Homo sapiens: one gene and its partners. The protein of the gene in region 1 purifies or fractionates together with the protein of each later gene. This does not show direct contact. Each region holds a gene or a part of one and is shown in the gene's direction. Other genes may lie near its edges.

What was found.
Region 2: the proteins of DLX6 (region 1) and GIP purify together in Homo sapiens (affinity purification with mass spectrometry; one large-scale study listed by BioGRID and IntAct). This does not show direct contact.
Region 3: the proteins of DLX6 (region 1) and GRHL1 purify together in Homo sapiens (co-immunoprecipitation; one large-scale study listed by IntAct). This does not show direct contact.

What each region holds. Positions count from the first base shown.
Region 1 is NC_000007.14:97,008,406-97,011,623, forward strand, and holds the end of DLX6 (homeobox protein DLX-6), read left to right. Parts: intron 1-1,390; coding exon 1,391-1,642; 3' UTR 1,643-2,635; downstream 2,636-3,218.
Region 2 is NC_000017.11:48,958,597-48,962,096, reverse strand, and holds part of GIP (gastric inhibitory polypeptide preproprotein), read left to right. Parts: intron 1-277; coding exon 278-370; intron 371-1,109; coding exon 1,110-1,211; intron 1,212-3,380; coding exon 3,381-3,390; 3' UTR 3,391-3,500. UniProt on the Homo sapiens protein: Potent stimulator of insulin secretion and relatively poor inhibitor of gastric acid secretion.
Region 3 is NC_000002.12:9,989,535-9,993,264, forward strand, and holds part of GRHL1 (grainyhead-like protein 1 homolog), read left to right. Parts: intron 1-1,161; coding exon 1,162-1,213; coding exon of another isoform or gene 1,214-1,249; intron 1,250-2,472; coding exon 2,473-2,612; exon of another isoform or gene 2,613-2,782; intron 2,783-3,440; exon of another isoform or gene 3,441-3,672; coding exon 3,673-3,710; exon of another isoform or gene 3,711-3,730. UniProt on the Homo sapiens protein: Transcription factor involved in epithelial development. Binds directly to the consensus DNA sequence 5'-AACCGGTT-3'.

The sequences.
Region 1 (3,218 bases):
TCTGGGTGACAGACTGATGTGGTCTGAGCTGCCTCCCTGGAGCACAGGACTTGGGTGCAGTGGCAGAGTTGGAGATCAAAGAGAAATGTTACCAAAATTGTAACAGGTGAAGCCACAGTTAAGTACAGTTACTGAAGTTCTCCCATCCTACTAATTTGAAAGCCATAGAAGGCATTTCAGATTTCACAAGAAGGAGCTTAGGTGAGTATATTAGGACCCTGGTCAAAAAGCCAGGCTGCAATCACCTGCAGTTTTTGTTGATTAATTTACCTACATGGAGTAAGTAGGCCTCATCTGATGTAGGTAATCTTCAGCAAGGGGACCTCAGGTTTTATGAGACTGTTGCTGCAGACTGATTGTGTGTTGACTTAAGACAGTTGTTCCTTAAGCTCTTTTTCAATTTAGCCTGTTTTCTCTTTCCATATTGCTATTCATAATATTTGGGGTTTGATATGAAGGGATTCCGGCTATTCAGTGACTTGTATGCGTCTTGAAAAAGTAGATTCTTATGGCTAGGGAATTTTAAAGGTAAAGGAAGCTGCACCATAAAATTTCCTTCTTCAAATAAAGTAGATCTGAAATGTTGGCCTAGATATGCTCCCATCCCAGATTCCCGATTCACGTTTAATTTTCAGAAGCCCTTTGACTTTTAATTACTATACTAACAATCATGTGATGATCCTTGACCACAGTTTGACTAGGCAACATACAAAATAGGGAATGAAGGAGCTGCAGTCCTTAATCCCTGCAAGGTTATGGGGATATATTTATGTCTGGAGAAAGATGCTTCATGTATAATCTATGGCATATGCAATATATGCATAGATATATTCAAGGCATTTAGTTATAAATGTACAGGCTTTAATTCCTTCAGTCATTTGCTCCTTGTACCTTTATAGAGATAACAGCTTTTGGGTATCTCTATGCATGTACACGGAGAAAATGACTGTGTAAAATAGTTATTTTACATAGACTAAATTTACATTACTAAATTTTATGTAAAATGACAAGACTTTCAGAGGAGGTGCATTCAATTGAATGGCTTTGATTTGAAAGGGCTGCTTTTAAAAATCCTTTAGGCTTTGGACCTGGTCATCTCATTCAGCTTTTTCTTATTTATACTGTTGTTTTAAACCTACGCTAGCACGCAATTCTAGAATTACAATAACTTTAGGTATCCAGGCAAGATACCTAGTATGTTGTAGGAAGTGGGACTGTAAGAGGCTAGAAAGAGGTGGAAGGAGGCGGGGACTTGGCTTGTAGGCGTTGGCGGTGGTTGTTTTTTGTTTTTTGTTTTTTTGCTTTTTTAATATTGCTTCTAAATCCCTGAGTGACGTTAGAGGCACTGGTTTGATGTTTATGGGCCTAATGATTGCTGCATTTCTTGCAGGTGAAGATATGGTTTCAGAACAAACGCTCTAAGTTTAAGAAACTGCTGAAGCAGGGCAGTAATCCTCATGAGAGCGACCCCCTCCAGGGCTCGGCGGCCCTGTCGCCACGCTCGCCAGCGCTGCCTCCAGTCTGGGACGTTTCTGCCTCGGCCAAGGGTGTCAGTATGCCCCCCAACAGCTACATGCCTGGCTATTCTCACTGGTACTCCTCTCCACACCAGGACACGATGCAGAGACCACAGATGATGTGAGTTGCCCAAGGGAACACCCTAGGGAAACGTCTGAACAAGGAAAAGAGGATCCGGGACCTGCTTGTATCTGCGAAAAGGAGCCAAAGGAGCAGGCTTAGGAGAGCTCATAAGTGTGGCAAGAAGCCGACTAGGCTCATTCTCTCTCCCTCTCTCTCTCTCTCCCTCTCCTTTCTTTTTACTTCTTCCTTTCCTCCATTCCTTCTTTCTTTCCTTTTCCTTTCTACCTTTCTTTTCTTTTTGCCTTTCACCTTTTTTCTCATTTACCTTCTCTCTTGAGCAACGTCAGTAATTGATCTTGCATCTCAGAGAGAGAGAAAGAGCATGTGTGAGAGAGAAACTGGTTTCTATGCCAGCACTCCTGAAACCCCTTACTGTAAGGATATTTTCTCTTACCCCTTGGGATCCAGGCTCTGAGTCTCTTCTCTTTGGGAGTATCCATCAAAATGACTTTTTTTAAAAACAGATTTTCCCCCAACCAGAAGAATCTGCACAAACTTGGCAGCGTTTTTACTTGTTTAATGAGTTTAAGACATTACATGGTGAAAGAGAAGCATTTTGGACTCCTGCATTTTTATTTACCATTCCCAGACTGACGAGAAAAAGAAAATTCCTCACATAACAGCCCTTCTCTAAAGAAAAAGGAAAAAGTGGCTGTAAGATTAGAACATTGCTACAAAGGGAATGCTGCATGTTTTATCAAAATGCAATGACCAGGAATGATGGTTGATTAAAAAAAAACAAAACAAAAACCACTCTTTCCCCACCCCACCCCCCCAAACCCTGAACTGGAATCAGGAAAGACGGAGGAAACAATCAAAATCACCATTCTATTGCTTTGACACCTTTACTAGGTGAATTGGTGGCATTCACAAAGCTAATAGGGACGTTTATATCAAGAAACATTTCTGTATATATTGTTGAATTTTAGTTGTACATATACTTTGTATGTTTTTGTCTTCTTTCATATATGGAGTAAAAGCCACAAAACGCTGAGTGTCTTGTATATTTCTCTCTCTGTGTGTCTCTGTCCCTCTCTTTCCTCCCTCCTCCCTCACTTCCCTTCCCCCCATTAAATTTTCTATCACCCTTAAAAAAATTCCTATTTCCTAATATGGGAAGTCATATGTATATATATGAACATCAAGTGCCTGCAAAGATGTCAGTTTGCACACTAGCCTTTGTCTTAGGTAGTTTAACATTAACCATGGATGTTCTTTCAACTTTCTTTACATATTACGTTTTTATTGTAATTTCTACACATTTACCTATGTTTTAAACATTAGAATGACCTATCCTCAAGTTAACTTCTAGACATCACAGTAGTTTCTAGTGCTGAAACTGAGTATTCTCCTTTCCCTTTTCCCAGCCAAAATAATACAGCCATATTTGTCTTTGTTTGGATGCAGTTTTTTAAAATATAGGAAAGAAAAAAATAGAGAGTAGAGTGCACAATTATGCCTACTTAATGTTTAAAACCCATTGCCAGCTAGCTAGGTAGGAAAATGCACTATGCTGGATGAAATACATCCTTCCGATCTTGGGGAAAGCACAGAAATAATGAAAATGAAAAGTCCTT
Region 2 (3,500 bases), on another chromosome or scaffold:
CCCTGTCTCTCACACACACACCAAAAAAAATGAAGAGAAGATTAACTGTCCTCGTCCTTCTCCCTGCTCTATGCCAAGTCTCTTTCCCCGCCCTCTCTGGTCAGCACGGTAGATTCTGAAAAGCTGTTCACTGGTGGAGGCAGCTGAAGACCACTGTTAGGTGGGGTTGAGTGGAAAAAGGTACCCTCTGCTTTTGGGGTTCAGATATTAAAAGATTCAAGTGTCCCTAGACTGGAGTCTCCGCAGCTTGCCCACTCTCTAATCTTTATCTTCCCAGCTGGAAACACAACATCACCCAGAGGGAGGCTCGGGCGCTGGAGCTGGCCAGTCAAGCTAATAGGAAGGAGGAGGAGGCAGTGGAGCCACAGAGGTGAGTCAGGGCGCAGAGGGAAGGGAGGGAGCCAAGCCTCCTGCCCCGCCCCCACCTCTTTGTTCCCTCTCCCTGACCCCAGAGCAGAGCAAGGACCTGAGATAAGCATCCTCTTCCTCTCAGAGTTCAAAGAGGGGTCTTCATTGAGCAAACTCCTGGAGGTCAGCCCAAGCTTAAGGAAGAAGCCTTGGAGAAACGGGAGGGGTGCTAGGAGGGGTTTCAGGGACAGGGTTTCTAATATTGATGACTGCATGCACAGCACAGTCACTGAGTCAGGAGAAGGGCAGGAAAGAAGAGACCTCAGGTCCTGGCCTCACCACCTCTCCCTGCCAAACCTCGGGAAGACTGTTTGTGAAAGAGCGGGGGATCTTCCCAGGCCCACTCCCCTGAAATCAGTTATCCCCTCTCTGAATGGCACAGGTCATTTCAAAGAGTGAATGTGCCCAAAGTACTCTCTGCATTCTGGAACACTGGCAGAGGTGGATGGGCAGAATATCTCATACCAGAATTCTGTTTGACTCTCCCTGTATGAAGAGTCCATATTCCCCAGGCAGGCAGCGCTGGGTGGGGCTGGCAGAAAGGAGGCTCCAGATCTCAGAGCTGAGCCAACGGAGAGATAGCTGTGTCGGCTCCCTCCCCCCATCCGCGGCTGCCCCTCAGTGGTGTCCCCAACCCTGTGTTTACCCTCTCTGGGCGAAGCTCAGGCTAAAATAGTTAGCCAGAGACTGTTCCCTTGCAGCTCCCCAGCCAAGAACCCCAGCGATGAAGATTTGCTGCGGGACTTGCTGATTCAAGAGCTGTTGGCCTGCTTGCTGGATCAGACAAACCTCTGCAGGCTCAGGTAGGGGAGTGTGGTGTTGCACAGCGGTTCTAACTTGAGCTTGGGCATCAGACATGGATTCAGATCTTTGCCCCTCCACATGCTGGCTGATTACATAGCCTTTCTGAACCTCAGTGTTTTCACTAAAATCAGAGGTATAGAATCATTTCACAGGATTGTTGTCAGCTTTAAGTAAGAGAATGCAAGTGGAAAAATACAAAGAAAAAAAACAAAAGAAAAAAAAGACAATTCAAGTGGAGACCTGAGGGCCATCTTTGAGGAGTAATAAGAGCTCAGCAAGGTTAGTAGCTCTGATTACTATTTGTTCTTCTTCCTCACTCTTCCAGGCGAGGTGATGCTCTCCCCTGCCTATCCCTACCTGCCTGTCTCTACCCACCCAGAGCCCATCCTATGCCCCGCCTGTCCCTACCCACCGAGCTGAGCCCATCCTGTGTCCCGCCTGTCCCTACACACAGAGCTGAGCCCATCCTGTGGCCTGCCTGTCCCTACACACAGAGCTGAGCCCATCCTGTGTCCCGCCTGTCCCTACCCACCGAGCTGAGCCCATCCTGTGTCCCGCCTGTCCCTACACACAGAGCTGAGCCCATCCTGTGTCCCGCCTGTCCCTACCCACCGAGCTGAGCCCATCCTGTGGCCTGCCTGTCCCTACACACAGAGCTGAGCCCATCCTATGTCCCGCCTGTCCCTACCCACCGAGCTGAGCCCATCCTGTGGCCTGCCTGTCCCTACCCACCGAGCTGAGCCCATCCTGTGTCCCGCCTGTCCCTACCCACCGAGCTGAGCCCATCCTGTGTCCCGCCTGTCCCTACACACAGAGCTGAGCCCATCCTGTGGCCCGCCTGTCCCTACCCACCGAGCTGAGCCCATCCTGTGGCCTGCCTGTCCCTACCCACCGAGCTGAGCCCATCCTGTGTCCCGCCTGTCCCTACCCACCGAGCTGAGCCCATCCTGTGGCCTGCCTGTCCCTACCCACCGAGCTGAGCCCATCCTGTGGCCTGCCTGTCCCTACACACAGAGCTGAGCCCATCCTGTGGCCTGCCTGTCCCTACCCACCGAGCTGAGCCCATCCTGTGTCCCGCCTGTCCCTACCCACCGAGCTGAGCCCATCCTGTGTCCTGCCTGTCCCTACACACAGAGCTGAGCCCATCCTGTTCTCAGCTTTCCCTCTGTACCCTTGGGCCATGGCACCTTCCTGGTGATGGGAAACTACATAGTTAGAGGCATGTTTCCTTCCTCTGTGGCCACTGCTGGCTTCAATGGTCTCTTGAATCCCCCTCATCAGCTAGAAAATTCTTCAGTCCATTCCTTATGTCCCAGAATCGAGGCACTAAATATTATGAAGACACCTGTCCACCTAAAGGGTGAGACAGGACCCTCATGATGCAGACACAGAGGCACGGAAACCAAAACACTTCAGACATTGATGCTGAGCAGCTAGGGAGGGATTGAGGGAGCAAATCTGGGACAGGAACCTCAGGAGGGGAAGAAGGGACAGGAGTGTGAGCAGATCCATGGAGAAGAGGGTGTAAGAAAATCTCCGTAAGAAGGTGGATATTGTGAATTATTTTGATTACTTATCATTAAAATGGTGATTTGATGAGGCAAAGGTGGGAGCATTGCTTGAGGCCAGGAGTTCAAGACTGCAGTGATCTATGATCACATCTGTAAACAGTCACTGCACTCCAGCTTGGGCACCACAGTGAGACTGTCTCTTAAAAAATAAGTAAAATGAGGCCGGGTATGGTGGCTCATGCCTGTAATCCCAGGACTTTGGGAGGCCGAGGAGGGTGGATCATGAGGTCAGGAGATCGAGACCATCCTGGCTAACACAGTGAAACCCTGTCTCTATTAAAAATACAAAAAATTAGCTGGGCGTGGAGGCGGGCGCCTGTAGTCCCAGCTACTCGGGAGGCTGAGGCAGGAGAATGGCGTGAACCCAGGAGGTGGAGCTTGCGGTGAGCCGAGATCGCGCCACTGCACTCCAGCCTGGGCGACAGAGCGAGACTCCGTCTCAAAAAAAAAAAAAAAAGTAAATTGATAAAAATTAAAATATTTAAAAAGGTGATTTGAAGGTAGGAGGGGTTCAACAATGGTTGGGTCCCAGGATAAATGTGCTTGGCCGACTCCAAGTCCATAACAACCTTCTTCTCCTTTCCCCACTCTCCCCAGGTCTCGGTGACTCTGACCACACCCAGCTCAGGACTGGATTCTGCCCTTCACTTAGCACCTGCCTCAGCCCCACTCCAGAATAGCCAAGAGAACCCAAACCAATAAAGTTTATGCTAAGTC
Region 3 (3,730 bases), on another chromosome or scaffold:
AGGACTCTGAGTACACTTTTTCTCTTTTTTCTTTGAGGGAGTCTCACTCTGTCACCCAGACTGGAGTACAGTGGTGCGATCCCAGCTCACCGCAATCTCTACCTCCCAGGTTCAACTGATTCTCCTGCCTCAGCCTCCCGAGTAGCTGGGATTACAGGCATGCATCACCACGCCCGGCTAAATTTTTTGTATTTTTAATGGAGACAGGGTTTCCCATGTTGGCCAGGCTGGTCGTGAACTCCTGGCCTCAAGGGATCCACCCACCTCGGCCTCCCAAAATGCTGGGATTACAAGCGTGAGCCACCGCGCCCAGCCCACTTGTTCTCTTTTAAGTGATGATGCATATTTCTAGTTCCATCTTCACTTTGTGAATTCTGCTTGGTTAGATCTGCCACATGGTTGATACCAGGCCCTTGGACTGAATCACAGCCTTCAGTGATAACCTTGGCCATATAGGAGAGTATACTCAAGAGTAGGGCCAACTTGGGTTTTTTCTTTCATTTCCTTTTCCTACTGGACAAAGGGAAAATACCCTTGTGTCTTTGCAGGCATGTGGTATACTCACAGATTTTCTCAGCTTTCATTTAACACGACCACATCCATTATAAGGAGAAATTTTGCTTTTTTTTTTTGAGACAGAGTTTCGCTTTGTCACCCAGGCTGGAGTGCAGTGGTGTGATCTCAGCTCACTGCAACCTCCACCTCTCAGGGGTTCAAGCAGTTCTCCTGCCTCAGCCTCCCAAGTAGCTGGGACTACAGGTGCCCGCTACCACGCCTGGCTAATTTTTGTATTTTTAGTAGAGGTGGGGTTTCACCATGTTGGCCAGGCTGGTCTCGAACTCCTGACCTCAAATGATCCACCCACCTCGGCCTCCCAAAGTGCTGGGATTACAGGCATGAGCTACCGCTTCCGGCCGGAATTTTGCTTTATTTGTTTTTCAAATAAATGTTGTTCCCTGTGATTTCATAGAATTAAAAATAATTTTAAGACTAATCTTTTTAGAAGAAACTACTATGATAAGCCTCATGAATATAGTAAGTAATGGGGTTCCTGTCCAGAGAAGGGAGAAAGGCTTCTTCTTCCATTGGTCAGGATAAGAGTTAAATATTTTAAAGAAGATTGGAAAACAGAATCATATCTTGTCTTCTCTTAACCTACAGGGAGCTGAGCGGAAAATCAGGGATGAAGAACGAAAGCAAAGCAAAAGAAAAGGCAAGTGTCCTGACCCCAGCTCCCAGGTGAATGCCTGTAAGTAGAAATGTTCCCGGCAAGCTTCAGACCTTTTCCATTGAGAATGGTGGCTGGAGTTTGCACGCAGAAGACAGTGGGTGTTCTTCCTGTTCTGCAGTGTGGCACTGCCTCTTCCTCAGATCAGCAGCAGATGCCAGCTCAGCGGGAGGGGTTTTCCTGGGGACTACAGGATAGATCCCTGGGTTTTCCCGACCTCAGCGTTTTTGGCTCTCAGTTCTAGTTCAGACTTCTGTTTCCAGTCTTGAAAAATGACAACACGTTCTGCATGAATCACTGTTAAAATTGGGACTTATCTAGATTTTTTAAAGTAATAATAATGGTCTTGAGAATTCAAGATGTCTTAACTCCAAGTAAGATCATATTTTGTATCTAAAGTATAGTATTTTAATATTTGCAGAATCTATAGGGCTTCTGTTTGGACATTTCACCAGGAAGGCTTTGTTTTCTTTTTTTTTTAATTGTGACCAGTATTCATATTCACAAAATCTTGTATCTAAAATGAAGAAAGTGCTGTTCTGTGCCTGTAGGGTTCCATCTGTAGTACATGGGCTTCTGGCAGCTCTTTTGAATGGTCTGTCTGGCTCAGCAGACATTTGCCCTGCAACACCTTAGTCAGGATTCTCCTACTGGTATCAAAGTACAAACTCCCAGTGACACTTCAGAGAGCAGCTGACTAACTAGGAGACCTCATTACTGAGTACTTCAGGGCCAGCCAGATCATTGGGGAAGATGGAGTCTCTAACTTACTAAATTAAAAATTGGATGGGCATGCTTACACTTCACCTCATTGTCGAGTTTCTTGATATGTTCTGAAGTCAATGGGTCCATGAGTGTTGGAATGTAAATTATTTAATGAGGACAGCTGAGGTGAAATTTCTTCCAAATTATGTTTACACAATTATACATTTTAGCCTTTCCAATGAAAACTAAATACGCTCTGCCTCTGTCGCAAATCTTCTGTGGATATGCGTCTGTGTGTGTTTGAAGATACCTTTTCCCTTTTGATTTGATAAGACATTCAGTTGATTTTAGTGGAAATACACACAACAAATTCCTTTACATAAACTGGGATTCTTAGGCAGGCAGCGTGCCCTGTTGTATCTTACAGAGTGCTACACTTGGAGTATCTTACTCAGAGGCGAGCACTCTGTGGCCTGCATCCAGTCTGTATGTAATCCTTTGACCTTGGCTTCCTCTTTTTTAATTTTTTTTTTTTTCAGTTTCTGATGTTAAAGTGCCACTGCTTCCCTCTCACAAGCGAATGGATATCACAGTTTTCAAACCCTTCATTGATCTCGATACTCAGCCTGTCCTCTTCATTCCTGACGTGCACTTTGCCAACTTGCAGCGGGGCACTCATGTAGGTAACCAGGATCCCAGGGGAGGTTACCAGGAAGGAAGGCATGGCAAAAGGAAATTCTTTGGCATTATTCATGGGAAACAGAAGCCAAAATTGAGTGAGGTTTGACCAGTTAGTCAGCTCTTTGGAATATTCTGCTGGGGTGACATGATGCCCGTGCAATAAAAATGGTAAGCATCGCTGATTTCAAGGTGCAGTGCAGCCTGTCAGCTTTATTCTGTTTGTATTCATTCATTCATTCGTTCGTTCTTCATACCTACATATCCTAGCTCATTTAAAAGATTCTAGAATAGTAGCATAATTTGGAGTTTGAGCCTGTCATCTTTTTAAACTTAACTTGGGGCAATACCTAGGTTAAGGAGCTCTTATAACATAAGAACATCCGAAGGCTTTTCTCACAGTTCCAGTTACTGAGCCGTCCTTGCCACGTGTAGTTACCAATGGCCATGTCTTGGCAACTAAAACTAAATTTTAAAAAATGGTCACGCCCTGTTTTGTGGCAAAGGCTTACAAGGGATAGAAACTTCAGTAGAATGAAGCATGGTTTTATGCTGAGTGCAAATAAATATCAAAAAGACAGTCTTTCATGCACTTTGTGGACAGATTTATAAGGACTAAAGATTCGTCAGAGTTCTTGGGGCCATGGCCAGTACATTTAGTTTCTAATGGGAAGCTGGAGGTGAGCAGGGGTTAGCACACTGTTTTTGTGAAGGGCTGGGCCGTAAAGGTTTTCAGCTTTTGGGGCCCCGTGGTCTCCACTGTGCTGCTCAGTGCTGCCGAACTAGTGCACACATGGCCATAAGCAGCATGTGAATGAATGAGCGTGGCTTTGTTTCAGTAAAGACTTTATTTACATGAACTGGCTTTAGACCAGATTTGGCCCAACCACTGAGTTAAAGGAGTTCAAGACATCTGTAAGAATCTGTTATTGAAAACTAAGGCTAAAGGATTTTATATTAGATTGGTGAAATTCAAAATTATTTCCATTTTAGGAATAATTCATTTATGGCCAAACATTTTGAGCATACATTTGAAAAGCAATCTATTCCTTTGGTCTTAGGTCCTTCCCATTGCCTCTGAAGAATTGGAGGGTGAAGGGTAAGATTTATGTTTTGTTT